Regions from separate parts of the Homo sapiens genome. Here all the other regions are linked to region 3. Evidence: fine-mapped expression QTL. A gene starts in region 3. Each other region holds a variant in brackets. All regions are shown on one strand. Distances are from middle to middle.

What was found.
Region 1: its variant is fine-mapped to the expression of EPB41L5 in skeletal muscle (FUSION, PIP 0.95).
Region 2: its variant is fine-mapped to the expression of EPB41L5 in whole blood (TOPMed, PIP above 0.99).
Region 4: its variant is fine-mapped to the expression of EPB41L5 in whole blood (TOPMed, PIP 0.98).

What each region holds. Positions count from the first base shown.
Region 1 is chr2:120,052,362-120,060,471 of GRCh38, forward strand. All of the region lies in intron 3 of EPB41L5 (erythrocyte membrane protein band 4.1 like 5), which reads left to right. Among named protein-coding and RNA genes, the nearest start is that of EPB41L5, 43 kb to the left of the region's middle. The variant A/AT (reference allele first, on the strand shown) is at 3,120.
Region 2 is chr2:120,145,032-120,153,141 of GRCh38, forward strand. It overlaps EPB41L5 (erythrocyte membrane protein band 4.1 like 5), which reads left to right. Exons shown (of 25, transcript NM_020909.4): 20 at 1,194-1,258. Among named protein-coding and RNA genes, the nearest start is that of TMEM185B, 74 kb to the right of the region's middle. The variant A/C (reference allele first, on the strand shown) is at 4,767.
Region 3 is chr2:120,008,484-120,016,593 of GRCh38, forward strand. It overlaps EPB41L5 (erythrocyte membrane protein band 4.1 like 5), which reads left to right and starts at 4,594. Exons shown (of 25, transcript NM_020909.4): 1 at 4,594-4,727. It overlaps LOC107985817 (a long non-coding RNA gene), which reads left to right. Exons shown (of 4, transcript XR_001739205.2): 2 at 1,664-1,818; 3 at 3,157-3,175; 4 at 3,910-4,221. RefSeq lists a silencer at 4,770-4,939.
Region 4 is chr2:120,105,599-120,113,708 of GRCh38, forward strand. All of the region lies in intron 16 of EPB41L5 (erythrocyte membrane protein band 4.1 like 5), which reads left to right. Among named protein-coding and RNA genes, the nearest start is that of EPB41L5, 97 kb to the left of the region's middle. The variant C/T (reference allele first, on the strand shown) is at 4,030.

The DNA.
Region 1 (8,110 bases), 44 kb after region 3:
TGTCATGTACTTTCATTTGGTCCCATTACTAGTGATACTAAATTTGATCCCTTGATTAAGATGGTGTCTGCTAGGCCTCACCACTATGAAGTTATTCTTTTTTCCCTTTGTCATTAACTATTTTGTGGGCAGTTATGTTGAGACTTTTCCTCATCAAACTTTCTATTTATTTATGAACTAATAGATTCCTGTTTTAATTCAATGGGTTATATCTGTTACTATCATTTAATTTGTTGCTCAAATTTTCCCACGTATGGTCAATGGGAGCTGCTTCAAGATGGCTTCTATGTTCATTTGACATGGCCCCTTCATTCTTTGAGCTCTGCCTTACTTTCTGGCTTATGAAGGTATGCCATGTTCATCTTGCAGTGCCCTACTCCAGCCCTGGAATTAGCCAGTTCTCCAATGAGTCTTGTGACCAGATTTAGGGAATATGTGTTTATGTTTATTTCTCCATATCTCTCTCTCGAATACCATGAATACCATAACTTCAACACCCATAAATAATTGAAATTCCAGTCTAACACTACAGGGCTTCTTGTAGTTTTTTTTCTCTTTCCATATTTGTAGTTCTCTTCTATAGAAACCAGGCTATGATTATCACCAGTAGATTTACTATATTGATCACTCAGCATGTGTGGAACCAGTCTCTAGCCTCTCCCTGTGTACATGCTGGTCTTGCTCAGACAACCTAATTATTTCTGGACTGAGTTATTATTTTTTATTTTTATTTTTTGCTGTTTCTTTGATCTTGGATGGACTGAATTATTTGGAAAAAGGAAAGGATTGTGAAACTTGTCACCTTACAAATACACAGTGGAACGTAAAGCACTCCTTTGACAGTTGTATTGAAGAGTTATTACCTCAGAGATTTGGTTTGGAGTAGGAAGCTTAAAGAGAAGAGAGAAGGCATGCTTAAGTAAAAGAAGGAGTTGGTTTTAGTTAGCATGACGATGTCATTTTTTCTGTAAAGTAGGCCACTTAAAAAAAAGACAATTTACATACCATAAAGTTCACCATTTTAGATTGTACAATTCAGAGTTTTCAGTATATTTAGAATTGTTCAGCCATCATCACTAATTCCAGAACATTTTCATCACCCCCAAAGAAACCCTCTTACACGTTACCAGTCATTTCCCATTTACCCCTCCCCACAGCATCTGGCAAACGCTGTCTATGGATTGCCTATTTTGAAAATTTCATTTGAATGGAATCATGTAATAGGTGGCCTTTGGAATCTGGAAATGTACTTAGCATAATGTTTTCATGGTTCATCCGTGTTGTAGCATATCTTAGTGGTTGATTCCTTTTTATTGCTGAATAATATTCTATTGTATGAATATATCACATTTTATTTACTCATCCATTGATGGACATTTGGAGTATTTCTACTATTTGGCTGTTATGAATAATGCTGCTCTGAAGGCTGGGCATGGTGGTCTGTAATCCAAACACTTGGGGAGGCTGAGATGGGTGGATTGCTTGAGCCCAGGAGTTCGAGACCAGCCTGGGCAACTTGGCAAAACACTTGTCTCTACAATATACAAAAATTAGCCAGGTGCGGTGGTGTGTGCCTGTAGTTCCAGCTACTTGGGAGGCTCAGGTAGGAGGATTGCTTGTGCCAAACTTTTCCAGTGATGGCACCATTCCACACTCCCTACCAGCAGTGTATGAGGATTCCTGTTTCTCCACATCCTTGCCAACTTGTGATTTCCCCTTCTTTTTGTTTAGCCATCCTAGTTGGTATGAAATGGTGTCTCATTGTGGTTTCGATTTGCATTTCCCTAATGACTAATGATGTTGAGCATCTTTTCATGTGCTTGTTTGCCGTTTGTGTATCTTCTTTGGAGAAATGTCTATTCAGATCCTTTGCCTGATTTTTTAAAGTGTGTTATTTGCTTTTCTGCTGTTGAGTTGTAAGAGTTCTTTGTATTTTCTGGGTACTCAGCCCTAGTCAGATACATCTGCAAACTTTTTTCCCCTACTTTTCACTTTCTTGATAGTGTCCTTTGACAAAAGTTTTACATTGTGATGAAATCCAGTTTACCTACTTTGGTTGCTTATGCTGTTTGTGTTATATCTATCAAACGATTGCCTATTCTGAGGTCATAAAGATTTACACGTTTTCTTCTAAAAGTTTTTTTTTTTTTTGAGAAAGAGTCTCACTCTTCTCACTCCAGTCACCAGGCTGGAGTGCAGTGGTGCAATTTCGGCTCACTGCAACTCCGCCTCCCGGTTCGAGCAGTTCTCCTGCCTCAGCCTCCGAAGTACCTGGGACAACAGGCATCTGATTCATTTAGAGTTAATTTTTGTATATGCTATGAAGTTGGGGTCCACCTTCATTCTTTAGCATGTGAATATCCAGTGATCCTAACACCACTTGTTAAAATGACTTGAAGGGTCTTGTTGCATGCTTGTTGGAAATCTATTTACTATAGACTATAGATATGTGGGTTTATTTCTGGATTCCCTCTTCTGTTCCATTGATACATACATATATACACTTTTTTTTTTTTTTTTTTGAGACGGAGTTTCACTTTTGTTGCCCAGGCTGGAGTGCAATCATGCGAACTTGGCCCACCACGACCTCTGCCTCCCGGGTCCAAGTGATTCTCCTGCCTCAGCCTCCCAAGCAGCTGGGACTACAGGCATGCACCACCATGCCCAGCTAATTTTGCACCTTTAGCAGAGATGGGGTTTGTTCATGTTGGCAGGCTGGTCCCAAACTCGACCTCAGGCAATCCGCCTGCCTCGGCCTCCCAAAGTGCTGGAATTATAGGCGTGAGCCACCATGCCCGGCCTGTTCCATTGATCTTTATGTTGATCCTTATGCCAGTACCACAGTGTCTTGATTATGGTAACTTTGTAGTAAGTCTTAAAATTGGGAAGTGTGAGTTCTCCAGCTGTCTTCTTTTTTCAGTATTCTTTTGGTTATTCTGAGTCCCTTGCATTTCCGTATAAATCTTAGGGTCAGCTTATCCATTTATGCAAAAAAGGCAGTTGGAATTTTGGTAGGGATTGCACTGAATCTGTATATCAATTTGGGGAATATTGCCATTTTAACAATGTAGTCTTCTGATCCATGAACATGGAATGTCTTTCTCTGTATTAGGTTTTTA[A/AT]TTTTTTTTTTTTTTTTTTTTTTTTTGAGACAGAGTCTTGCTCTGTCAACCAGGCTGGAGTGCAGTGGTGTGATCTCGGCTCACTGGAACCTCTGCCTCCCGGGTTCACGCCATTCTCCTGCCTCAGCCTCCCTAGGTTTTTAATTTTTTAAAACAATGTTTTATAGTTTAAGTTTATAGAAGTCTCACTTCCTTGGTTAAATTTATTCCTAAGCATTTTATTCCTTTGGTACTATTTTAAATGGAATTGTTTTTATAATTTCATTTTTGGATTGTTCATTGTTAGCATATAGAACTGCAACTGATTTTTGTGTATTTATTTTGTATCCTGTAGTCTTGCTGAACGTGTTTATTAGTTTTAATGTGTTTTTATGTATAAGATCATGTCATCTGCAAAAAGATGGTTTTATGTCTTCCTTTAGAATCTGGATGTCTTGTGTTTTTTTCTTTCCTTTTCTTTCCTCAGTGCCCTGGCTAGAACCTTCAATAAAATGTTGAATAGAAGCAGTGGGAGTGGACACCCTTGACATATTCCTGATCTTAGTGGGGAAAATGTTCAGTCTTCTACCATCAAGTATGGTGTGGGAATTTTATAGATGCCCTTAATCAGATTGAGGGAAGGTCTTTTCTATTCCTAGTTCGTTGATGCTTTCATAATGAAAGGTCGTTGGGTTTTGTCAATTGCTTTTTCTGCATTTATTGAGAGGATGATGTGAAGTTTTTAAAAAATCTGTTTATATGGTATGTTATGTTGATTTTTTTTTTTTAATGTTGAACCAACCTTGAATTTTTGGGATAAATCCCACTTAGTCATGGTTTATAGTCTTTTTTTTTTTTGAGATGGAGTCTCGCTTTGTTGCCCAGGTTGGAGTGCAGTGGCGTGATCTCAGCTCACTGCAACATCTGCCTCCTGGTTCAAGCGATTCTCCTGCCTCAGCCTCCCAAGGAGCTGGGATGACAGGCATGCACCACTGTGCCCGGCTAGTTTTTGTATTTTTAGTAGAGATGGGATTTCGCCATGTTGTCCAGGCTGGTCTTGAACTCCTGTATGCAAGCGATCCTTTTGCCTCAGCCTCCCAAAGTGTTGGGATTACAGGTGTGAGCCACCACACCTGACCATTGGTTTGCCAGTATTTGATGATTATTTTGGTACTATATTCATAAAGGATATTAGTCTGTAGTTTTCTTGTGACTTTTTTTTTTTTTCTGGTTTGGGTGTAATGCTGGTCTTGTAGACGAGGTGGGAAAACCATCCCCCCTCTTGTATTTTTTTGGAAAATCTTGTGAAGGATTAGTGTTAATTCTTTCAACATTTGGTAGAATTTGTCATTGAAACCATCTGGTTCTGGGCTTTTGTTTGTGAGAAGTTTTTGATTATTGACTCATTCCTTTACTTGTTACAGGTGTATTCAGATTTTCTTTTCTTTCCATTTTGAGACAGGGTCTCACTTTGTCACCCAGGCTGGAGTGTAGTGACGCCATCACAGCTCACTGCGGCCTCAACCTCCCAGGCTCAAGGGATCCTCCCATGTCAGCCTCCTGAGTAGTGGGGGCTATAGGCACCCACCACGCCTGGCTAATTCTTTATTTTTTTGTAGAGATGGGGGCTCACCATGTTGCCCAGACTGGTCTTGATCTCCTGGATGCAAGTGATCCTCTTCAGCCTCGCAAAGTGCTGGGATTACAAGTGTGAGCTACCACGTCTGGCTGTGTTTTCTCTAAAGGCCACTTTAGAGAGTAAAAGGGGTACTTAATGAATGAGGGATTGGGATAGTAGGCATAAGCTGCCAGTATTATTCTGGTAAACCAGAATATATGGTCATCGTTGTTTTAGTGGACTGCAGAATACTACCCCATCGTCTATTTTAAAATCTAAATGTAATTTAATATCCTTTTATATAGTCCAGTGATGATCTTAAACTTAGAGTTATGAAATCTGTGGACTTACCCTAGAAAAATGCACATACACATAACGTTTTGTCTGTACATAGTAATTCAGATATCCCCCAAGCCCAACTATGAATTCTCCAATTTAGTAACCCTTCTTTAGCAAATGAATAACCTATAGCTTAAGGGAAGATGGATAATGGTATAAATCTGTGAGTTTTTCTGTTTAAATCTTTAAGACAGTTACGCCGTCAAACATTTATAATCTCTTTTTTTTTTTTTGCTGTTGGTACAACTTTGTTATTAAATCTCATTGTATAACTAAACAGATATTTTTATGGTAATATATTCTTTCTTGATGAAGGCTTAGGGAAACACTTTTTTTTTGCTGTCATAAAAATAGTACATGTAGCAAAGCCACCCATGACAGGAGCACTGCCAATATTAGTGGTTAAAAAAGTGACAATTTTGGGTAGTTTCTTGTATACAGGACTTTCCACAGTAGAAGTAATATATTTTTAATTTTGATATTGAGTGGTTTTAGGTTGGTACAATAAGACTTTGCAAAATAATTGGAGAGTTAACTGTACCGATTTCCTGGAGAACACATTTGATACATTTTGAAGGAACAATTTTCAGTCTTAAAATCACATGTTTACATGGACCAGGCAGGAGAGCAAAAGAAGGGAAGCAGGTTGGTGTGCACATTAAAGATTTTGCATGGTTATTTACTCCAAGAAGAAATATGGTTTCTCTCATTTAAAAAAAAATCTTGCTACATACTTGTTATGTTTTGTATTTTCCTTCATTTTATTTTATTTTTAAATAAAAGAAGCAGGGTTTTGCTGTCTGTGTCTGCCCAGGCTGGAGTGCAGTGGCATGATCAGAGCTCACTGTAGCCTTGATCCCCTGGGCTCAAGTGATCCACCCACCTCAGCCTCCCAAGTAGGTAGGACTACAGGTGTGCACCACCATGCCTGGCTAATTTAAAAAATAATAATTTTGTAGAGACTGCCCAGGCTGTTCTGGAACTCCTGGCCTCAAGTGATCCTCTTGCCTTGGCCCTCTAAGGTGTTGGGATTACAGGTGTGGGCCACTGTGCCCAGCCCTTTTCTCATTTTTGATAGGGATAGAGACAGAGAAATATAGATAGCGTGATGATAAATCATAGCTGATATCCAGCAGACTGTAGAGGATCAAAAAGGATTGGTGGAGGGGATGTGGTGAAGTGGGAAGCATTTTACATTTACCTGCAAAAGACAGTATATGGCAACTACCACCTAGCTCCAGGCATTTGCTGTTAAATAGGTTTGTTGTACCAGCATTGCTGGATCTTCAGGTATTTCAAGAAAAGCTGAAATCCAGATTTCAAGGCTAAATTGTCTATTTTTAAAAAGTTGTTAAACATATTTTTAAAAATAGCGTGGCTGATGGAGAAATCAAAGAAGATAAAAGTAAATGGAAAGACATTCTACATTGAATGGAAGACTCAACAAAGATACCAGTTCTCCCCAAATTGATATACAGGTTTAATGCAGTTTTTCTCAAAATTCCAGTAAGATCTTTTGTAGATATAGGTAAGATTATTCTAAAATTTATATGGAAAGACAGAGGACTACTAGAATGGCTAAAGTAATTTTAAAAAAGGGGAATAAAATGGGAGGAATCATGCTACCCAATTTCAAGACTTACTATATAGCTTTCATAATCAAGACTTTGTGGTATTGGCAAAGCGACAGACATGTAGATCAATGGAAAGAAATAGCCATACACAAATATGACCTCTGATTTTTGTCAAAGGTGCCAAAGTAATTCAGTGGAAGAATAGTCTTAATAATGGTGCTGGATTAGAACCTGTGGAAGAAGGAAAAACAAACAAACTAAAAAAAGTGCTGGAGCAGCTGGATATCTGTAAGACAGAAAAACCTTGACCTAAACCTTATACCTATACAAAAATTAACTCAAAATGGATAATGAGCCTGAATATAAAATATAAAACTATGAAACTTAGAGACAAATAAACAGGAGAAAATCTGTGGGACCTAGAGTTTAGAGAAGAGTTACTAGTAAACATGATACCAAAAGGATGATTTTTAAAAAAAAGATAAAATGGACTTCATAAAAAATTAAAAACTTTTGCTTTGGGAAAGACTCTGTTAATAGAACGAGAAGCTAAGCTACAGACTGGGAGAAAGTATTCGTATATCACACATCTGACCAGGAACTCGTGTCTAGCATATATACACAATGCCTAGCTGGGCGCAGTGGCTCACGCCTCTAATCTCATCACTTTGGGAGGCCAAGGCAAGAGGATCACTTGAGCTCAGGAGTTCAAGACTAGCCTGGACAACATAGTGAGACCTTGTCTCTACAAAAAAAAACAAAAAAAGTCTGCTGCTGTGGCTACTTGGGAGGCTGGGCAGGAGGATTGCTTAAGCCTGGGAGGTGGAGGCTGCTGTGAGTGTGACAGCCACTGCACCTCAAACCTGGGCGACAGAGCGAAACCGTGTCTCAACCAAAAACAAAACAAAACAAGCTCCTCAGCTCAACAATTAGAAAGCAAACAGTCTAATTCAAAAATGAACAAAAGACATGAAGAGACATTTCACCTGAGAGGATATACAGATGACAAATTCATGAAAAGATGTTAGACTAGCCATCAGGGAAGTGCCAATTAAGACCTCAGTGAGATGTTTTCACTACACATCTATCAAAACAGCTAAAGTACAACATGGTGACAACTCCAAATTTTGGTGAGAATGTGCAGAAATGGGATCTCTTATACATTGTTGTTGGGATTGTAAAGTGATATCGCTACTCTGGAAGATAATCTGGCAGTTTCTTTTAAAACTAAACATATACTTAAACCATATGACTAATCAGTTGTATGCCTGACCATTTATCCCAGAGAGATGAAGACTTACTTCCACACAAAAACCTGAGCATGATTGTTCATAGCATCTTTATTTGTAGTAGCAAAAAACTTGAAACAACCACAGTGTCCTACAGTAAGTGAATGATTAAACAGTGGCACAATCATACCATGTAATACTACTCAGCAATAAAAAGAAAAAACTATTGATACACACCAACTTGGATGGATT
Region 2 (8,110 bases), 140 kb after region 3:
TCATAATTAATGATGAAAGCCACATCCACTGAAATAGCTAAAATTAAACACTGACCATCCCTGTGCTGGTGATGATAGAGCTCCTGTGGTGCACATACATTGCTGGTAAGAACATAAAATTGTATAAACACTTTAAAAGAGTTTGGCAATGCATCAGACATACACATATCATCTAACCCGCAATTACATTCTTAGATATTTGCCCAAGAGAAATCAAAACTCAGGTTAACACAGATGTTAGTACATGAATGTTCCTAGCAGCTTTATATGAAATAGCTAAAAACAGATGATTGTGATGTATCTATACAATGAAATGTCTGAATAAAAAGGAATAAATTAGTGATTTGTACAACAACATGAGTGAATCTCAAAGACATCTCCATGCTGCTCTAAAGAAGCAGATGGAAAGGATAGGTACTGTGATTCCAATTATATGAAACTGTGTAAAGTATAGATCATCATTTACCTCAAATAAGGGTTTTTTCATGGGATTATGTGGGAAGCCTCAAGGGAATATTGAGGCGGGGAGTGGGGGAGATAGTAGAAATGTTACATGATGTTGGCTAAACACTTGTATGCCTTTAAAAAAATTTATTAAACTGTACTTTAAAAAAAATTGGTGCATTATTGATGCCAGGTGCGGTGCCTCATGCCTGTAATCCCACCACCTTGGGAGGCCCAGGCAGGTGGATTACTTGACATCAGGAGAGTTCAAGATTGACTGACCTACATGGTGAAACCATGTCTCTACTAAAAATACAAAAATTAGCCAGGTGTGGTGGCACATACCTGTAATCCCAGCTACTCGGGAGGCTGAGGCAGGAGAATCACTTGAACCTGGGAGGCAGAGGTTGCAGTGAGCTGAGATTGTACCACTGCACTCCAGCCTGGGGGACAGAGTGAGACTCAATCTCAAAAAAAAAATAAAAAATGGGTGCATTATTGAGAACCATCTAGTAAGATTGTGTGAATTTGTATACCAAATAAAAAAAGGAATCTTTGATTATTAATTTAGGTATGGGGTAAGATTGTACTAGGTACACTGCTGGTATTTCCATAGATAAGGTATGATTACCTCTTATTTTAATTAAAGCAAACTGATATTTCTGTTGTTACCAGAAAGAAATGTAAATTTCTTGTTACTTTAGTATCCTCAATAAAGATTTACTTTTTTTAATATTTCATTTTCTTAGGTTACAAAAGAAGATAGCTTATTAAGTCATAAAAATGCCAATGTTCAGGATGCTGCCACAAACAGGTACAGTTCTGGGTAGACTGAATTAAATTGATGTTCTTATCTATCTTTGTCTTTTTTTTCTTCTCAGTCTGTCACCACATGGTTTCAGGATGTCTGTCTGAAAGATAGCTTGAATTCACTCTATTGTATCCATTACAGACCACTTAGTACCTAGTTTTATATTATTTGAAGATGTTCCTAATTAGTCTCCCAACATTCCCATTTATCTTCAACTGATTCGAACCAACAGAGCAGAAACCGTCTTAAAGATATGTGTGATCTTTTCAGTCACCTGGTAAGGAGTGTGTATTATTCTCTTACAGTAAACTTTCATGTCATCCTGTTATCACAATGGCCTTGTTCTTATCAACTTACTTGCCATGGGTTCTCACAGTAATGTAGTTAACTTTCTTTGCTGCTCCCTCCAAGTCTCTTCTGCCCTTGCTCCCTTTAATGAGTATTTTGGCATTTATTTGTCTTGTTAGTTAGGCTTTTATTCCATGCTTTATGGCCATTGACTTTCTTCACCACTGTGAATCTAATGTTCTGTGCTTAGTGTTAAAAAATGTTGAGCAAATAAATGCTGTTTCTTTTTTTACTGTTCAAAACTGATTCAGTCAAGGAATATGATTGTGATTAATCATATTCAGTTCCAGATACCGCAGTCAACATGGCACCACACATAGTATGCATAGTGTATAGCACTTTATATTATAATAGTTAGTACTCAGCAAAAGTACTAATTGGTGATCAGGGTAAAGCTAGAATTACAACTTGACCTTGTAACTAATGCTAATTGCCAGGCACGGTGTCTCAGACCTGTAATCCCAGCACTTTCAGAGGTCAAGGCAGGAGGATCACTTGAGGCCAGCAGTTTGAGACTAGCCTGGGCAAGATAGTGAGATCCTGTCTCTACAATTAAAAATAAAAAATTAGCCGAGCATGGTGATCCACGCTGTAGGCCTAGCTCCTCAAAAGACTGAAGAGGGACAATCTCGTGAGCCCAGGAGTTTGAGGCTGCAGTGAGCTATGATCGCACCACTGCGCTTCATTCTGAGTGACAGAGTGAGACCCTGGTTTTTTTTCTAAGGGGCCAGGCCGTGGTGGCTCACGCCTGTAGTCCCAGCACTTTGGATCGCCTGAGGTCATGAATTCAAGACCAGCCTAGCCAACATGGTGAAACCCGTCTCTACTAAAAATACGAAAATTAGCTGGGCATGGTGGCGCACGCCTGTAATCCCAGCTACTGGGGAGGCCAAGACAGGAGAATTGCTTGAACCCAGGAGGCAGAGGTTGCAGTGAGCCGTGATCGTGCCACTGCACTCCAGCGTGGGCAACAGAGCGAAACTCTGTCTCAAAAAAAAAAAAAAAAAAAAAAGGAAAGAAAATTCTGATAACCACTGTTAGTAATAACATTTTTAGTACTATTGTTATTATTGAAGTCTTTCAGAATAAAATTTTTTGTTTGCCAGGAGAAGGGTAATGGGAACAGGACTGCCCAATGTTCATCAGAAGTTTCATTGAACTCTTGAAGCTGGAAAGAGCCTAGAGCATACATGCAGATTTATTTTTCTAAATGCCTGTTCATATTTTGAAGAATCTATTTTTCCCCTAGGATTTCAAATGCATCCTTTGAAATATACTAGGTTCTTATATAAACATGGGTGTATTTCTAGATCTTTTCCTTCTCTTTTAATCTATTTTCCCCATGCTATACAACACTGTTCTGTTTTACTGTACCTCCTTTTTGAAAATGCAGTATTTTAGGCACAGAGACACTATGGAGAAGTATATAATATACTGTATATAGTATACCTGTATACCAAATATCAAGCTTTGTCACATCTTAACATTTTACCATAATAGATTTAGATCATTTTTCTTTCTTTTTTTTACTGACATAATTCACATACCACAAAATTCACTCTTTAAAAATACACAATTCAGTAATTTTACAAAATTGTGCAACCATTACCACTATAATAAATTCTAGAACATTGTTTGAGAATGTTCTAGAAACACCATAGGTCTAGAAACTCCTTACCCTCACTCCTTACCCTTTCCAGACCTTAGGTAAGGTAGAAACCTTCATACTCACTATAATACTCATCCTAGTTCTCATATATACTCATCCTCATTCTACCTTACCTAAGGTCTTCATACTCACTAGGATGAGTATTATAGTGAGTATGAAGGTTTCTACCTTACCTAAAGTCTGCAAACACTTTACCCATTAGCAGTCACTCCATATTCTGCTTCTTGCCCAGCACCTGGCAACCACTAATCTACTTTGTCTCTGTGGATTTACCTACTCTGGACAGTTTATGTCAATGGAATTATACGTGTCCTTTTGTGTCTGGCTTCTTACATTCAACGTAATATTTTCCAGATTTGTCCATATTGTAGCATATGTTGGTACTTTGTCCCTCCTTATGGCTAAATAATATTTCATTATATAGATATACAACATTTATTTATCCATATATCAGTTGATGGACATTTGAATTGTTTCCACTCTTTAGCTATTGTGAACAAAGCTAGACGTGAATATTTGCATACAAATTTTTTTTTGTAAATATACTTTCAGTTCTCCTTAGTATATACCTAGGAGTAACACCATTTCTCCTCAGTCATATGGTAACTCTATATTTAACTTTCTTAAGAACTGCCAAATGTCTTCCAAAATGGCCGTAACATTTTTCATTCTTACCAGCAATGTATGAGGATTCCAATTTCTCCGTGTCATTGACAGTGCTTATTATTCTCCTTGTTTATTATACTCATCCTAGTGAGTATAAAGTGTGTCTCATCTCATTGTGGTTTGATTTGCATTTACCTAAGGACTAATGATGTTGAACATCCTTTCGTGTATGTCTATTTGGAGAAATGTCTATTCAGATCATTTATTTTTGTAGTAACAGCTTCATTGATAAATTTGATTCAAATACCACACAATTCATCCATTTAAAGTGTGCAATTCAATAGTTTTTGGTACATTTTTGTACATTTAGTACATTCTGTATTTAGTACATACAACCACCATCAGTAACAAATTTCAGAATATTTTCGTCACCTCAAAAAGAAATCCCCTGCTCTTTAACTGTAACCCCATCTACCCTGCACTGCCTTTCCCCTAACCCTGAGGAAGTACTTTTCTACTTTCTGTCTCTATAGATTTACCTATCTGGACATTTCATATAAATGATACTCTGTAATATGAGGTCTTTTGTGTCTGGCTTCTTTCACTTAGCATAATGTTTCCAGGGTCATCCATACTGTACTATTATGTATCAGGACTTTATTTCCTTTTATGGCTGTATAATATTTCATTGTATGGATATACCACAGTTTGTTTATTCATCTGTTGATAGACATTTAGATTGTTTCCACCTTTTGACTGTTAGGAATATTGCAGCTATGAATAGTCATGTACAATTTTGTGTTTGAACACCTGTTTTTCAGTTACACATCTAGAGTAGAATTCCGGAGTCATACGGTAATTCTGCTTTTAACCTTTTAAGGAACTGCC[A/C]AACTGTTTTCTACAACCACTGCACCATTTTCTATTTCTCCCAGTAATGAGTGAGGGTTTTTATTTCTTTACACTCTCATGGTATTTCACTGTACTTTTTTTTTTTTTTTTTTTTGAGACAGGGTCTTGCTCTGTCACCCAGGTTGGAGTGCAGTGGCACAAGCACAACTCATTGCAGCCTCAAACTTAGGCTCAAACGATCCTCCCACCTGAGCTTCCTTAGTAGCAGGGACTACAGGCACATGCCACCATGCTCGGCTAAGTTTTTTTTCATTTCTGGGAGAGACAAGGTGTCACTGTGTTGCCCAGGCTGGTCTTCGAACTCCTGAGCTCAAGCGAGCCTCCCATCCCAGCCTTCCAAAGTGCTGAAATTACAGGTGGGAGCCACCACACCCAGCCTCAGTGTACTTTTGATTTGCATTTCTCTAATGATTAAGAATGTTGGGGATTTTTTCATGTGTTTGTTGGCCATTCGTGTAACTTCTTTGGATAAATGTCTATTCAAGTCCTTTGCTCATTTTTTATTTTATTTTCTTATTTTTTAGAGACATTATTGCTCAATCACCCAGGCTGGAATGCAGTGGCACAATCATAGCTCACTGTAACCTTGAACTCCTGGGCTTAAGTGATCCTCCTGCCTCAGCCCTCTGAGTAGCTAGGATTACAGGCACACACCACCCTGCCCAGCTAATTTAAAAAAAAAAAGTTTATTTTATTTTATTTTTTTAGAGATGGGGTCTCACTAAGTTGCTCAGACTGGTCTCAAGCTCCTAGCCTCAGGCAATCCTCTTACCTTGGCCCTAAAAAGTGTTGGGATTACAGGTGTGACCTACTGTGCCTGCCCACCCCATTTATTTTTATTTCTTTTTTTTTTCTAATCCCATGACAGATTACCCATTTTTAAATTGGGTTTACTTTATTGTTGAATTGTAGGAGTCCTTGATTGAATATCAATTCTTAATACTAGACTCTTACCGAATACATGATTTGAAAATATTTTTTCCCATTCTGTGGATTGTCTTTTCACTTTCTTAGTGATCAGCCTTTTGATGCATAAAAATTCTTTGTTTTGACGAAGTCTAATTTATCTACTTTTCTTAGGTTGTCTGTGCTTTTAGTGTTTTATATAAGAAACCATTGTGAAATTCAAGATCATAATGATTAACAGTTGCATAGCTTTGGCTAGAACTTCCAGTATAGGAAACATATTTAGATCTTCTGTCTATTTTCAGTTAATTTTTTCAGCTGGGCATGGTGGCTTATGCCTGTAATCCAGGCTGATGTGGGAGTATTGCTTGAGCCCAGGAGTTCGAGACCACCCTGGCTAACACAGTGAAACCCTGTCTCTACTCAAAATACAAAAAATTAGCCGGGTGCCTGTAGTCCCAGCTACTCGGGAGGCTAAGGCAGGAGAATGGCGTGAACCTGGGAGGCGGAGCTTGCAGTGAGCCGAGATCACGCCACTGCACTCCAGCCTGGGCGACGGAGCGAGACTCCATCTCAAAAAATAATAATAATAATAATAATGCAGAAAAAAACCTATTAGATCTAATAAACTCAGCACAGTTGCAGAATACAAGATAAATACACAAAAATCAGTTGTATTTCTATACACTAGCAGTGAACAGTTTGAAAACAAAATTAACAACTATGTTACAACAGCATAAAAGATTTAAAAACCTAGGAAACAATTTAACCAAGGAGGCAAAAGACTTGTACACTGAAAACTACAAAACACCACTGACCTCATGATCCACCCACCTCGGCCTCCCAAAGTGCTGGGATTACAGGCAGGAGCCACTGCGTCTGGCCCTTTTTTTTTTTTTTTTTTTTTTAAAGACGGAGTCTTGCTCTTGTCACCCAGGCTGGAATGCAATGGCGCGATTTTGGTTCACTGCAGCCTCTGCCTCCTGGGTTCAAGCGATTCTCCTGCCTCACCCTCCTGAGTAGCTGGGATTACAGGCACCTGCCACCATGCCCAGCTAATTTTTGTATTTTTAGTAGAGATGGGGTTTTACCATGTTGGCCAGGCTAATCTTGAACTCCTGATCTCAGGTAATCGGCCCGCCTCGGCCTCCCAAAGTGCTGAGATGACAAGTGTGAGCCACCACACCCAGCTGGTTTTTTCTGCATTCTATAAGATTTTCTATATACATGATTATGGCATCTGTGAATAGCGATAGTTTTACTTCCTTATTTCCAGTTGGGAAGTTTTTATTTCTTTTTCTTACCTGATTGCTTTGGCTAGAACTTCCAGTACAGTGTTGAACAGAAGAGACAAAAACTGACATTCTTATTTTATTCCTGAAAGGGATAAAGGGAAAGCTTTCAGTCTTTCACCATTGAGTGTTGTGTGTATGTTTTTCATATATGCCCTTTACCATACTGTGGAAATTCCATTCTATTCTGTTTGTTTTTATCATGAAAAAGTGTTGCATTTTTGTTATATGCTTTTTCTGCATCAGTTGAGATGCTCATCAATTGAGATTTTTTCCTTCTTTCTGTTAATATGGTGTGGTTTTCTGATGTTGAACCACTCTTGTGAACTTCTAGAACAAATCCTACTTGGTCATGTTATATAAGCTTTTTAATATTCTTCTCGATGCAGTTTGATAACATTTTTTTTAGGACTTTTGTATATATATTCATCAGGGATATTGGTCTGTAGGTTTCTCCAACTCCTGGCCTTAAGCAGTACTTCTACCTCAGCCTCCCAAATTGCTGGGGATTATAGCTGTGAGCCACCATGCCTGGCTGGTTTGTAATTTTCTTACAATGTCTTTATTTGACTTTGGTGACAGGGCAATAGTGTTGGCCTCATAGCATGATTTAGGAAGTGTTCCTTCTTCTGCTGTGTTTTGGAAGAGATTGAGAAGGATTATTGTTAATTCTTTAAATATTTGGTAGAATTCACCAGTGAAGCTATGGTCCTGGGCTTTTCTTTGTTGGAAAGTTTTTGATTACTGATTCAATCTCTTTACTTGTTGTAAGTCTATTCAGATTTTCCATTTCGTCTTAAGTCAGTTTTGGTAATTTGTTTTCAGGAATGTTTGCATTTCACCTAGGTGATTTAATTTACTGGAGTAAATTGCTCATAGTATTTTCTTCAAATCCTTTTTATTTGTTTTTTACTGAGAGGTTTCACCCTTTTTAATTTCTGATATTAGTTGAATCTTTTCTTCCTCATAAGTCTAGCTAAATATTTGTCAATCTTGTTGATCTTTCAGTGGACTAACTTTTGGATTTAAGTTTTTCTTAAGTTCTTTGTTTTTCTAGTTCCTTAAGGTGTAAAGTTAGGTTATTGATTTTAAGATCTTATTTTTAAATGTAGGGATTTACAGCTA
Region 3 (8,110 bases):
GTAAAAGAAAATCTTTCCATGGGCCAAGACAATGCCACCAGGAAGTGGGTTTTGGTAGGCACCTTCTTTTTTTTTTTTTTTGAGAGGAGTCTCACTCTGTTGCCAGGCTGGAGTGCAGTGGCGCGATCTCGGCTCACTGCACCTCCACCTCTGGTGTTCAATCGATTCTCCTACCTCAGCCTACCAAGTAGCTGGGATTACAGGCGCCCACTACCACGCCCAGCTAATTTTTGTATTTTTTTAGTAGAGACGGGGTTTCACCATGTTGGCCAGGCTGGTCTCAATCTCCTGACCTCGTGATCCACCCACCTCGGCCTCCCAAAGTGCTGGGATTACAGGCGTGAGCCGCCGTGCCAGGCTGGTAGGCACCTTCTATAGCTACCCACAGTTATTTGTCTCAGCAACATTCTCTCTTTGAGGCTAATAGAATTTGGATTTGTTCAGAAAGTTAAGGAGAGCCCTTGGTCTCCAGCTCCCAAGGGTGAATCCTGACTGGTCTAAGCCAGTCATGGTATTCTCTTTCCCTATGGCCTTTAATTGGTCTGAGTTAGGGCAGGTAGTGTAGTTCTGGCCGGAGACAGGGGGTGCTGGTACTTTCTTCTCTGAATTAAAAGACAAGGCTTCAGGTAAAGGTCTTTTTCCCCTTCCCTTTTATTCCTGAAACTCAAGAAAGCTGGAGATAAGCATCCGTCCTGTGGCCAGTATGCTAGAAGCATGAAAACCAAGGTCAACATGCTAAGGGTGGCAAAGCAGAAATGGTAAAGGGGTTTAGGATCCTTACAGCATTGTTGAGGAGCAGAACCAGTACTAATAGCTGCCTACCTCTAGATTACTTATGTGAGAAAAATAAACTCCTTATTTTTCAAATAACAGTTAAAATTTCCCATTACTTCCAGCCAAATGCATTTTTCCTTGATACAGCTATATTTAAGGAGAGGGCTTTCTCTGTCTCTGGCAGAAGTCAATTTTCTGGTGAATTTATCACGAAACGTGTGTTACAGAGGGTCCCTATGTCTAGAAGAGAGGATCTGGGGAGACAATGATTTGTTATTAGGAATAATTTCACATAATTAGAACATGAACAACTTTCTATGACTTGGGCCCTTAAGTTTCATCCTCCTTTCCTCAAGTCTTCATATTTCCTTTAGCCTATAACCATCTTTCTCAACAGATTTCTCTAACCTCATCCACAGCCTCCTTCAGTTCCACCTTTTTTTTTTCTGGAGATGGAGTCTTGGTCTGTCACTCAGCCTGGAGTGCAGTGGCGCCATCTCAGCTCATTGCAACCTCCGCCTCCTGGGTTCAAGTGATTCTCCTGCTTCAGCCTCCCGAGTAGCTGGGACTACAGGCACACACTGGCACGCCTGGCTAATTTTTGTATTTTTAGAAGAGATAGGGTTTCACCTTATTGGTCAGGCTGGTCTCGAACTCCCGACCTCAGGTGATCTACCCGCCTCGGCCTCCCAAAGTGCTGGGATTACAGGCATGAGCCACCGTGCCCAGCCCCAGTTCCATCTTTGATAGGAGATAGAAAAAAAGATTGAGCAGGATGGATGAAGAGGACACTGTTTTTCAAAACTGGTATGCTTTTCAACAATTTAGGAGAATAAGATATGTTTATAAGTATTGACAGAATTCACTTCCATTTCTGATCTGTAATCAGATAAACCAGAACTTTTCAAATGAGTAAACATCAGGTAAACATGGAAAGAGACAGTCTGGACAGGCTGAGGGGATGGCACTGAAGACCCTGCAGTTTTCCAACTGGCTAATCAGACCCCTGGGAAGAAGGAATGCTTTTCGGGGTACCTGGCCCAGGTGGGTTTGTTTGTTGTTTTTTGTTTTGTTTTGTTTTTAGACAGAGTTTCACTCGCATTGCCCAGGCTGGAGTGCAGTGCAGAGAAAGCAGCTCACTGAAACCTCCGCCTCCTGAATTCACGCGATTCTCCTGCCTCAGCCTCCTGAGTAGCTGGGACGGTTTTCACCATGTTGCTCAGGCCAATCTCGAATTCCTGAGCTAGAACTCTTGAGCCTTGGCCTTCCAAAATGCTGGGATTACAGGTGTCCAGGTGGTATTTTTTTAAATACTCTTTTTTTTTTTTTCAGACAGAGTCTCTGTCGTCCAGGCTGGAGTGCAATGGTGCAATCTCAGCTCACTGCAACCTCCACCTCCTGAGTTCAAAAGATTCTCCTGCCTCAGCCTCCCTAGTAGCTGGGATTACAAGCATGTGCCATCACACCCAGTTAATTTTTGTATTTTTAGTAGAGACGGGGTTTTACCATGTTGGTCAGGCTGGTCTCGAACTCCTGACCTCAAGTGATCCTCCTGCCTCGGCCTCCCAAAGTGCTGGGATTACAGGCATGAGCCACCACATTCGGTCTAAAGGACTTTATTATGAAAAATTTTAGATAGAATAGTTTAACGTCCCCATCACCCAGCCTCAGTTTATGGCCCATTCTTGTTTCATCTATACCATTGCTGCTTCCCCCTGCCATATCATTTCGTTTTTTTGTTGAGATAAAGATGCAAGATGACCAGCAACAATTCCTCCCATCCCTGAACACCCATGCTGCTCCTCTCATGAAGAGTGATGAAAATATTCCACAATTAGATTGTGGTTTGTGGTTCTACAACTCTGTGAAAATACCCAAAGCCATGGAAGTGTACACTTTAAGTGGGTGCATTATATCTCAATAAAGATGTTTTTAAAAGGTGGAGAAGGAAAATTTCTCTATTTTAATAATATTTAAAGAAAAAAAAAGAGGTAGAGTCTCTTTCATCTCCTTGAAACTGGGCGGCCTCTGTGATTTGCTTAAACCATTAACAGGCAGCAGAAGGGACGCTCCGTGACTGCTGGGCATAGCCCTTCATAGGCCTCAGAGCTTCTGTTTTCACTGTTTTGCCACACCAGCGGATCTGCAAGAGAGTAGCCCAGGCAGAACTCAGCTGTTCTTTGCAGCCACCCCAGCGGAGATGCCACACAGACCAGTGAAACCACCTTGGCAGCTCCAGCACCTGTTGAGCTGCCCAGCCAACACCACATGGGGCAGAGATGAGCTGCCAAGCCTGTCTACTACGTTTTGGGGTGGTGGAGGAGTGGGCAGTGCCAAATCCCGAGAAGAAGCTCAATGAGTATTTGTCTCTTTTCATTTCAGCAAGCAGAGGGTCCTCAAGGTAACACCTTCCAGTGGCTCCCCCACCTCTCTCAGAGCTCTAGCCAGGGCCCACAAGGCCCTACATCTTACCCCTTTCCTCTCTGACTGTCACCTCCTCTTCCTCTTGCTTCCTCACTTCTAGCCACACTGGACTTCCTTGAAAAGACAGACCTGTCCCCTTGCAGGGCCTTTTGCCCTTGCTGTTCCCTTCGGTTCTCCCCAGATGGCCACAGGGTTCCTCCCACACCTCCTCTAGGTCTTCATTCAAATGCTACCTTTTTTTTTTTTTTTGAGACTGAGTCTGGCTTTGTCGCCAGGCTGGAGTGCAGTGGCGTGATCTGGGCTCACTGCAACTTCCGCCTCCCGGGTTCGAGCGATTCCCCTGCCTCAGCCTCCTGAGTAGCTGGGACTACAGTCGGACGCCACCAGGCTCAGCTAATTTTTGTATTTTTAGTGGAGACGGAGTTTCACAGTGTTGGCCAGGCTGGTCTCGATCTCCTGACCTCGTGATCCGCCCGCCTCGGCCTCCCAAAGTGTTGGGATTACAGGAGTGAGCCACCGCGCCCAGCCAAATGCCACCTTCTTATTGTGACCTGCTATGTAAAATCGCAAACCCTCACTGCCTGTGGTTATTCCCTACTTGTACTTTTCTTTTTAGCATTTACCAATGTCTGACAGTATTTAATTTCACTAATTTATCTCGTTTATTTTATGTCTCGTTTATATTCCTGCTATAACGTAAACTCCGGGAAGGATTTTTGTCTGTCTTGGTTGTCTGTCGTATCTCGTGTCTAGAACACAGAACTCACAGTAAGTAGGCACTTCAATCAATTACCTGTAGAATGAACGGACTGAATGTCACCTTGTTAGAGTACCCTCCTGACCACACTCTGCTAAGCAGTAATCTTTTATTTCTCTTTCCCAGTTTTATTTTTCCTCATTTACACTTAATCACCTTGTGACACCTATTTGTTTACTGTTTCCCCAGTAGAGTGAAAGTCACTTTAACAGCAGAGATTTAAATGTATTTTAATCCCTACAAAGGAGAAAAAGGGAGGAAATACGTGACAGGCTCTCAATAAGTATTTGCGAAGGATTTAATCTCTTGAACGAATGGATGAATGAATCTAGCAGCCAGCTCCACCAGCCTCCTTCGTGATAGGACTAACTGGGGTCTGTCTGCGGACGGGCGCCTCCTCCGCGGGCGGAGGGCCGCAGCGGGAACTGGGTTTCGGCAGCGCCCCTTTAAACCAGCCGCGGACGCCCGGCTGCTGGCGCTAGTTCCAGCCCGGCCGGGCCCGGCCTCGCCGGTTTCTCTCCAGTCGCCGCGCCGGCCAATTTCCGGGGCGGTGTCATCGCCCGTTTAAGAGCGGAGCGCTCCGCCCTGGGGGCGGAGCTGGGAGGGAGCTTTAAGGGGTGGACGGGCGGGAGGTCGGGGTCCTCCGGGGATTAGAGCCGGTGGGCTCGTTGTGGGCGCCATTTCTCGGCGTCTACCGAGGAGCCGCCCCTTTCTCAGCCTTGCTCGGCTCTTCCCCGCTCTGGTCGCCGGGGCTGCGCCGTCCCCAGCTCAGGTAAGCGCGAGGCCCGGCGGCGGCGCCGCAGTACAGTCCGCTGCGCTCCTAGCCGAGTGGACCCTTCCTCGCCCGCGCCTGCGGTAGCGGCCTTGTCCCCGGGGAGGCGGGCGGGGGCCGCACCCAGACCCTAGGGCGGCCGGCCCCTCTCTCGTCGGGCCGGCAGGGCATTAATCCCGCCGGAGGGAGGGGCGGCGGCGGCCAATGAGGCAGGGCCGCCGAGTTTCGGTCGATACCGCGCGACGGGCCGGGGCGGAGGGCCCGGGGCAGCCGGGTTAATGTTTGCCGAGCGGACGCGCTCCCCGAGCCGCGGGTACCCCTCGCTGGTCCGCTGGGCTGCCGTCCAGCGGGAGAGACAAAAGTCGCAAGGGAAGGGGAAAAACGAACTGAGTTTGTGTCACTGTCTTGGTGGACTTTTCGAGCTAACCTGTATTTGAGAAAAACTTCAGTCTCTTGGGAAAGGAGAGGCAGGTGTGTTCCCATGAAAGACGAGGTCTGAAGGTCCCGCCCCGCCCCCACCCGGGACGGTTGTCGTGCTAATGATGGGTTCTTTGGTGTGTAAATGTTAATTGTGTCTGTGGTTACTCGAATTCTACCTAAGAGCGAGACCCAACTCTTAAAACGTTTGGCAATATTTTAGACTAATATTAAAAGTTTTTAAAGAATTACGGGGAAAATTCCCATAACCGTGTACATTTGTAATGTAACCCACAACTGCATTAACTCAGTTTCTAACATAACCCGTTGCTGAGCTCTAGTTAACCTTGTTGGATTATTTGTGCATGTAATATGCTGTGCAGGCTTTAGAAAATAGGTTAACATTATTCGAAAACGATATGCGTAACTGCTGTTGAATTACTCGCTTGCATTTTCTTTATTGGGAATACTGGGACAAAATATAGTGTTACCTTAAATGGCATTTGCTGTATGTTATATTGCTTTATCAAAAAGCAATTAACCAACCATATTGTGGCCACCAGTCATGTAAGAGTATACATATTTCATGACTAACTTTTGGGTTTTGGGTACTTTTTTTAACCAACTTCTGATAGGATTGCTTAAATTTGCATTTTATGATTCTAAAGGAAATCCTTCTAGTTAGGAACTAGAGTAGAAACTACTGTTTTTTGGAAGCCACATAAACCTACCATCCAAAAATTCCACTGTGTCATTCTAGTGTGTCAGGCGAGATGCGGGTTAAGCCAGCTGTTGGGCCAAAGTAGTGAACAAGCCAGACGAAGTCTTTGTCCTTGTGTGTGAGTGGGGGAAGTAGTCAGTAAAAAAGATAATAATTAACAGATATTTAATTACAATTTCTTTGTTATAAAGAAAAGGCTAAGAGTACTGAAAGAGATGTCGAATTTAGACTCACAAGTCTGAGATTGCTTTTCTGAGAATAAGACATTTCAACTATAAGTCTGAAGTTAGTCCAGTGAAATGGGAGCGGGTGGAAGAGAGGTCAACTGGAAAAAGAGCAATCCAGAAAGGTGGAACAGCTAATGAAAAATGGTCCAGAATTAAAAAGACTCTCCGGCCGAGCAGCAAGAGTACAAGAGCAGAGCAAACAGAGGGGAGTAGGCTGACAGATGGGTCAGGCAAGTAGGAGGAGCTGCATCTAGGACCAGGGCCATTAAAGATTTTAGAACAGGGATCAGATTTGTGGTTGCCAAAAATCCAGTGGCTGCAACATGAAGAGCGCAATTGGAAGAGTGCAGGTGGGAGGGGAAAAGTGAGTATGAGAAAACTTTTTTCACAATCATTAAAAAAAAAAAAAACCCACAACTTTTAGTGATCCATTCATATTATTTTTTTTTTCCATTAAAAAAAATTAGGCCAGGCGCAGTGGCTCACGCCTGTAATCCCAGCACTTTGGGAGGCCGAGGCGGGCGGATCACGAGGTCAGGAGATGGAGACTATCCTGGCTAACACGGTGAAACCCCGCCTCTACTAAAAAAAATAACAAAAAATTAGCCGGTCGTAGCGGCGGGCACCTGTAGTCCCAGCTACTTGGGAGGCTGAGGCAGAAGAATGGCGTAAACCCGGGAGGCAGATCTTGCAGTGAGCCCAGATCGCGCCACTGCACTTCAGCCTGGGCAACAGAGCGAGACTCAAAAAAAAAAAAAAAATTAGGTGGGGTCTTGCTGTGTTGCCCAGGCAGGTCTTGAACTCCTGGCTTCCAACAGTTCCGCCTTAGCCTCCCAAAGTGCTGGGATTACAGACATGAGCCACTGTACCCAGCCATATATTCTTGTTGTGACTTCTGACATGCCCCTCTTCAGAGAGAATCTCAACAGTTTACGTGTGTGTCTGTTTAGCGTGTCTGTGTGTGTGCATGTATCCCATCTCCGTGTAGGATGAAACTCTCTTCAGTGTTCTGTGATTTGATTTTTCACTTAGAAATTTTGTCATATCTAAGTCAACTATTTATTTAAAACAACTGTATTATGGCTGGGCTTGGTGCCTCATGCGTGTAATCCCAGCACTTTGGGAGGCTGAGGTGGGAGGAATCCGATTCCCTGAGGCCAGGAGTTTGAGACAAACCTGGCTAAGTAGCAAGACCCTGTCTCTACAAAAAATCATTGAAAAAACGTTAGCCCGGTGGGATGGTATGTGCCCGTAGCCCTAGGTGGGAGAATCCCTTGAGCATGGTAGATGAAGGCCGCAGTGAGCCCTGGGTGCTAGAGTGAGACTGTCTCTAAAAAAAAAAAAAAAAAAACATAAAAATAAAACAACTGTATTGTATGCTGTTGTGTGTACCATAACTTGTTTAACTGTTTGCACATTGATGAACACATTTAAAATTTTCTTAAATCAGTTATGCTCCGAAAAATCCTGTTCCTACAACTTAAAGCACATGTGTGATTTTTTTTCTTTAGGTTATCCTTCCAGAAATAGAACTGTTGAGTAAGGAATATGCATGTTAAAATTTCTAGTATTGGTCCGGCGAGGTGGCTTACGCCTGTAATCCTAGCACTTTGGGAGGCCGAGGCGGGCGGATCACCTGAGGTCAGAAGTTTGAGACCAGCCTGGCCAACATGGTGAAACCCAGTATCTACTAAAAGCACAAAAATTAGCTGGGCGTGGTGGCTGGTACCTGTAATCCCTGCTACTCAGGAGGCCAAGGCAAGAGAATCTCTTGAACCCGGCAGGTGGAGGTTGCAGTGAGCCGAGATCGCGCCATTGCACTGCAACCTGGGGGACTAGGTTGAGACTGTCTCAAAAAAAAAAAGAATTAAAAAAATATTAATAGCATGGTCAAGTCTCCCTCCAAAAAAGGCCAACGTAGGAGGATTATTTTTTCTCACATTCTTTTTTACACTATCTTGAGTCTTTAAATGACAGACAATATCTTATTTTTTTTCATTTGGATTTTCTTGGATACT
Region 4 (8,110 bases), 97 kb after region 3:
AGTTTAGTATAATTATGTGTAAGAGGATGGCCACTCAAAGTATTTAGCACATCCTCTAAATATAAATAGATCTGTATCTTAAATAGCCCGGCTCCCACCTCTTTAAGCCCATCATCGTTTAGCAAGCTTAAAAATGGCCACTAATGTATGGCCCTTATAGTTGTTTTAGACTTTACATAGCTCAGATGATAATTGCTAAGTATTGTCATGGCTGATTTTTTTTCTTAAAAGAGAGGAATTTGGATTATAACATTTTAAGCACAGAAGCTCTGGGTTGTGCCATTCAAGAAAAGGTTTCATGGGTATGTATATCATTAAAAAAAGTACTGTTTCTATAGTAAAAACCAAAGAGGCACAATGAAGTTGTAAGATTTGACTTCACTCACTTTAAAATTATTCTTAATCTGCAGGACATGCTCATATAATGCCCCATATATATCTTAGCAGATTGTAATTGAAGAGTAAGATCTTCAGTTCATATTGAAAGTGGCCATTTCTGTATTTATAATTTGAGTTAATCAGTACTGTTACATTTAAGGGAAGATTCACCTCATGATTTTTCTTTTGTTGAAAACCTTGTTGTAAAGAATTGATTTGCGAATTCCTGATGAGAGAAACTGGATTGGAGGGGTGTTAGGGATGGAGGCAGCGATAGGGGTGAGGAAAGTAAAGGGCTAAGGCTGGATGGTAGTAAAATTAAACTTGTCTATTTTATAGAAGTTCCCATATGCTTCAGAATTTCATATCAAATATTGCAAATACTTGTTCTTTTTACTGATATTTGCAAGATGGATATATATGTTGTTTCCAGAGCTCTCAGGTATTTATAAGTAGCTCAACCTAAATTAAATAAATTGTCACCAACCTATTTACACTCTACATTTTATTATGCCTAAAGAGTCAGTGATGATAAATTCGGAATTAGAGAAGTAATAACCTCCAGAAGCACCTTACTGGGTCACCATCCTTTTGATCAAAGGGTGTCATCAGTACAGAACTTAAGTATTATGTCATTTAATTTACAGTGCTTTGGCTAATTTTATTTAACTTAATTAATTTAACATCTTGAATTAGGTTGGTTACATTTTGACTGTTTTTACAGTCAAGGAAACTTGTAGAAACACAGCAAAGCTAGTGACCTTCACACTTTCACGCATGAACATAAATGAGCTCATAAGATCATCGTCTCTTTTTGTTGCGTTTCAAAGGCGTTTACCTATCTTGGAGTAAGATCTAACATTTCTGACCTTGATAGGATAATCATAGATAACATACTTTTAAATGAATTTACAGAGAAAAATAAATTTTATTTGTCCTACTATGTGTATAATATGTCTGTTTTGAAAAGCACCTAGTATACAAACACTAATATTGTAATACCAGTATAATTCAAATCATCTTTTTTTTTTTGGAGGGGAGTTTATTTAAAGTGTTGGCCAAAAAATGTTATTTATAACACTTGGTTGGATCTTTTTTTAAAAATTTCTTTTCATTGTTGTTCACTGTTCAAAAGGTACATCGCCAGGTTGGATCTTTTTATTTACTAATGTAAACTGAACAAGTTTGAAGGTGGTTGTCCCCTATTAGTTCATCGTGCCCCAGTGGTGGGAGCTATAGTTGTTTGAGCCATGGTACTGTCTTTGGTCAGGGCACACTCTTCATTTCTAAACCATGGTTCATTGCTTTGAGAGGCTGTTATTTTAGTGTTAGTCTTTGAATATTGGTTTGAAAATATTACAGTTACTATTTTTTATGATTGGTATTAGGACTTATGGATTTGCTAAAACAAAATCATCTTGTCTCAATAACGTTTTCTCTCTTTCCCACCACATTCTTCCTTCCTGAATTTTAATATGTGTTATACCACATCATCAGTTATATCTTGCTTTCCAGGATTGTTGTGAATGCTTGTATGTGAGATGCTTTTACATAAGGGCTAGGATTTGGAGATAATTCTGCGGTGGGGAAACAACTTTCTCTCCTTCCTTCTCCATGCCAGCCTCTTCCCCTACCCCCATGTATAAAATGTGATTTGTCAGATCCTTTCTAGATACTATGAATCGTGGATTTAGATATGGTAGTCTTCCTCTAACCCCCTTTTGCAGAACATAAACATTTCTCATCCTCTGTTCATACAATTTTTTACTTTAGTCACATGAAAACATTGTGAGAATGGAATCTTGTTCCATTAACGTTAACCTTGGTGGTGTAGAAATTAGGACATGAAGCATGTCACTTTCAGTGTAAAATATGTCAAGGAACTTCATTTCTTTCATCAATTCCTGACAATTGCTAATGTAGTAATGCACTTTAGTTGCTTTGAGCACTTTGGGCTGGTGAGAAGGGAAATACATAGTGTCTTTGTTAAAAGAATGAGTGAAGAGAAGAGAAAATTTTAAAAGAAATTGGTGAAAGGAAAATAACTTTGGCTTTTTTATTGTTATTTTTATACTGAAGTAGACAAACAATTGTTCCTGTTCTTCCTGAAGGAATTGTTGTCACAATTTTATTATTATTAGATAATTACCTAAGCTTCTGTGTTACAAGCTGTGGCCTCAGTTCTAGGTGGTGGTGCTTGAGTGAACATTTTACATTTTGTTCCTGACAGCTGGCCAGCATTGTGTTTATATTGGCATGGAAAAGAGATATCTGATTCAGAGAACAGTGTTTTCCAAGGATTGTGACTGAAGACTTCCTTAATGGTGTAATAATGTACCTCCTCATAAAAACAGGTTTGACAGCTGTAGCTCATTTTTTGTTGTTGAAGGAAGTTTTATTTGTTTTGTTTTTAACTACTTTTAATAAAGAATTGAGATCCAGTGTATGATTAAGATTTGTAAGAAATTGCAGATTCCTTAATAAAGCTCGCATCTACAGACATGACTAATCATTGATAATAATAAATGCAAAATATTTTAAATTATTAGGGGTAGAGTTAAAAAATGAAAAATAAAAGGTTATGATAATAGGAAGATGATTGCTGGCTTGATTTACCTTGTGGAACTAGTTAGAGGAGTATTCAGATAAATTGTGGAAAACATTAGAGGATGCAAAATACCACTGGAATTTATACCCATTAACAGAGAAGAGTTTCTTATTACAAAACTGTATTTGTAGCCCCACCAATAGCTTCAGGAATTATTTAATTATAAACTGTAGAAGTTTGGAGATAAGACCTGTGTTTAATAACTCGCATTAAATCTTTCTGGGGACATCATCAGCAAAACTCTTGGATAATTAGAAAGACCTGGGAAGATTGGGTTCTCTGGAATATCCAGGTTATCACTTTGAAATTTCACAATCATGTTGGAATAATAACATTAAAATATTTGAGTAGTAAAGGCATTGAATATCAGTCTGAGTCATCCACATTTGGTAAGGAGGCCTGGGGCATTTGTTGCAGTGAAAGATTTCAGGAGTCTTGTATTGATATCTCTTTTTTTGATTCATCTTATTTGTTGGACACCTACCAGAGTACCTCATTGGGTCTTCTTTATACACAGCCACTTATCATTATGCCTTTCCACATACCCTTGAATTTCTTGACCCTCTTCCTGTTGTATGCATCTGGTTAAATCCAACTCTGTATACTCTGCATATAGCTGGTGAATGTGAAATACACACAAAATTTTTGAGTGGTCTTTAAATTTTGACCACTAAGCTCAAGTGAGCCTTCAATGCTCCCTGATACCATATTACATTTCCTTAATCTATTTGTTCTCCTACAATGCTGGGCTGACTTTCTCCTCTTACAAACCACTTCCTCCTCTTACAAACCACTTCCTCCCTTCCTACTCTGTTCTCAGCTGATGACCTTGCTTCCTACTTTATTGAAAACATAAGCAATCAGAAGAGGTCTTCTCTGTACTCCCACCATTTTATCAGTGAACTTACCTGCATTTGGGAATTTGTTCCTTGCTTTCCCTGCTGTTACTCTAGGTGAACCATCCATACTCTAAGGCCCAGGTCCTCACTAGTCATTTAGATCCTCACCTCAAGTTACTCAAGACCATCATTTGAGCAATCCTC[C/T]GTTTTGTTCTACTGCATCGGTTTTCCCTTTCTACTGAAGTATTCTCATCAGAACAAAAACTTCCTAAGATAGCTCACATCATTTAAAAAAGAACTCCCTTGAATCTACCTCTTTTGGCAATTCCTCCATTTTTTTGTTTCACAGGTAGCAAAACTGTTTGCTTTGTAAGAATTGTCTATACTTGCTATCTCTTCTTTCTCTTAATCTCTTGAACCCATTCTAATCAAACATTGTCCCTGACACAGAGGACTGGGTATGATTGTGCAGATTGCATACTGTACAAGAGTGCCACATTTAGGAGAATGATGTTCACATAATTTATGACAGTGATTTTCCAGCAGATGGCACTAAGTGTCTTGTTCCGAAAAGATTAGTGTATTTGACAATTTTGCAAATTGGATGTGTCTTTTCAGAGGAGCATTGTTTTAATCCATATAAAGGCTCTGCCTTGAGTTAATAGTGTTATGCTACTACTCCACCAAAATAGCTTTATTAGATCACAAATGACCTGCATATTTCTAATCCCACAGTCCATCTTTTAGTCAGCTTAATTAGCATTCAGAAATCGCTCACTTCACGAAATTGTCATCACCTAGCTTAGAGATGTCACTATTTTTTATTGTCTTCTAACCTCCCTTCTAACACGCCATTGTCTTCTAACAAGCCATTGTTTTTAATCCCCTTTGCTAATGCCTACTTATCTCTCCAACCCCTAAACTCTGTTTAAGGAACTTTCCCGTAACAATTTATTCCCTTTGTAATATCATCCAGCATTATGGTTTTAAATGCTATCTATACACACTGGCAATTTCTCAGTTTATATCATCACCCTGAACTTTTAAATTTCCACACTTACATATCCAACTGCCTATCTGACATCTCTACTTAGGCATCTAATATAGGCATCTCATTTTAAATATTCTTTATTTTGAGGTAATGTTCAGCTTACAGAACAGTTTCAGGGATAGTACAGAAATTCCCACACCCTCCTGCCCTACCTTCCCCTATTTTTTTTTTTTTTTTTTTGAGACCAAGTCTCACTCTTGCCGAGGCTGGAGTGCAATGATGCAATCTCTGCTTACTGCAGCCTCCGCCTCCTGGGTTTCAGCAATTCTCCAGCCTCAGCTTCCGGAGTAGCTGGGACTACAGGAGTGCGCCACCATGCCCAGCTAATTTTTGTATTTTTTAGTAGAAACGGGGCTTCACCATGTTGGCCAGGCTGGTCTCAAACCCCTGGCCTCAAATGATCCTGATCTGCCCGCCTTGGCCTCCCAAAGTGCTGGGATTACAGGTGTGAGCCACCGCTCCTGGCCCCCTGTTGTTAACACTCCACATACATTCCATAACTTGTACCAATGTTAATTTCTTAGATTTTGTTTGTTTCACAAAACCTAAGAAATTAACATTGGTACAATACCACAAACTAAACTGGACCTTACTCAGGTTTCACTAGTCTTTCCACAAATTTTCCAGGATCTGACCCGAGATCCCATGTTACATTTAGTCCCCTTCAGCCTGTGACAGCCATTCCATGTTTTTCATGGTTGGCCAGATGCCTTGTGGAATATTTCTTGATTTGGGTTTGTGTGGTATTTTCACATGATTAGTTTGAGGCCACGGATTTGGGAGAAAATACTGCAGAAGTGATATTGGGCATCCCGAATTTAATATGTTCAAAATTGGACAAATATATCTCCTGACCCCTGCAGTTTTTCCCATCTTTGTGGTTTTTGTAGCTTCGTAAGTGGCAGTTCTCTTTTTCGTGTTGCTAAGCGTGTCTTGGGCTCTACTTTAGACCTGCTGAATCAGAAACACTGGAAGTGAGGTCCAGCAATCTGTTTCACATGCCCTCCTGGAGATTCTGATGCATACTGAAGTTTGAGAAGCACTGACTTAGACCAGAGCACCTTATAGTCATCTTGACTCCTCTTTGTCTCACACTCCAGATTTCTTTCAGAATCAGTAAATTCTGTCAGTTCTGTCTTCAAAATGTATCCAGGTCTACTGCTTGTTACCATCTTTACTGCTCCCATCCTGTTTCCATTTGTTGTCAGCCCTGCCCTCTTACCTGGCCTCCTTGCCATTGCCCTTGCTCCTCTACTGTCTGGTACTCCTTTCAGCAGCTGTAGTGATAACAGCAGATCATGTCATTTCTCTGCTTACACCTGCCAGCGTCCTTGTCTCGGAGTAAAACCTCAGATCCTCACATTGATAGAAACATGCTTTTTCCTCCCTTTATCTTCTATCAATCCTGACCTTGCTTACATCCAAAGACTCATCTTCTTATACTTGCTCAAACATACCAAGCATGTTCTCTCAGGATCTTTGTACTTTTACTGCTTCCTGAGTATTCCTCCCTTCAATCTCTTATGGTTCATTCCGGCACCATCAGGTTTCTTATTGGAGAAGCCTTTCCTGACCACTCTGAAATAATCATGTTCCCCGCCCCCTGCCCAGTCTTCTTTTTATTTCCTGTCTGCCTTACCCTGCTTTATTTTTTCTCACTCCTTTCATCTTAGTATGTGTTTGTTTGTCCTCTCTATACAGATAGTCCCTTATGATGATTCTTAGGATTTTTCAACTTTATGATGGGTTTATGAGAGTATTAAGTGCATTTTTGACTTACGATGGGTTTCTCAGGACATAACCCTATTGGGTAAGTCAGAGTGTCCGTTTTTCAACAGAATGTACGCTCCGTTAAGGGAGAGCATTTATTTTGTTTCCTTCTGTATCCTCAGACACTCCATATATATTATTTGATTGAATCAATGAATACCAAGCATGTCTTGGCACATCTGGTGATGCAGAAATAGTCAAAATACTGTTCTTGGCTTCAAGAAATTTATACTCAAACTGTGGAGATAAACAGTTTTACAAATAACTGATAAAGTGCTAAATCCAGCAAGCAAGAAGAGTAGAAGTGGTTGAAGTTAAGAAGGCTTCTTGGCATTTGCATCAGGTTTCCAGTGAAACAGAAAGGAGCTTTGAATGGATAAATCATTACGGGCCCAGGGACCTATAGGAAAAGAAAATTCTAAAGTAGCTAAGTGCAAGGTGTAGTCCAGGAATGATGAATCAGGTTTGAGTAAAGAGTATAGAATTTATGGGAAGGTATCGTGATAATAATAGCTAATACTTGAGTGCTTCTGTGCCAGACATTGTTCTGGAGGTACAGCAGTAAGTATTCACTCTAGCAAAGCATCCTCATTTAATCCTTATGAGGATCTATAAGGTATTCAGGCTAGTGAAGAAATGAAGGCACAGAACAATGAGGCTGGGCTTCAAACTCAAGACAGCTTAGTCCTAGAACCCAGCCTTGGCTACTGTACTGCCTCCATAACTCTGTAAAGGTTGTTGGGGTCCAGATTGTAGAGAGTAAAAAGGAATGTAATAATTCTATTTTAGGGGGCAGTGTGAAGAATGAATTCCAATTGGTGGAAGACTGGATTGTATTATAAAAATATGCTGCCTCCATTCTATGTAATTGTTAAAGAATCAGGTCAGTTTTCATGTACTTTTACTAGAGGATATCAGTGACACTGTTGAGTTTAAAACTTAAGTGTCTGAGGTTTGTTCCCATTTTTGTGAAAGCAACCAAATCATGTATATATTAGTAAGTGCACGCACACATGCAAGAACCTAACTAGATAAACAGGCTTTCAGAAAATGGGAGTGAGGGTAACATTGCTTTTCTTAGCTATCATTCACAACTTTAACAATAAATTACTCCAAATTATGGAAGGAGACAAGGAAAACTGCTTCAGTTTACACAGGCAAGTGTCCATGAAAAGTAAGGAAATAGGTAGAAGAAAGAATGTCTTTACATATTTCTTTATACATTCTTGAGAGATGGATATGAACTAAGACATTACCAAAGCCACAGATTAATAATATTATGTGTAACTACGTTTAAAAAAATTTAAGTGTATAATTCAGTGGGTTTAGTTTATTCACAAAGGTGTACAACCATCACCACTATTTAATTCCGTAACATTTTTATCCCCAAAAGAAACCTCTTTCCTATTAGCAGTTACTATCAATTATTCCTTCCTACTAGCCCCTGGCAAACACTAATTTACT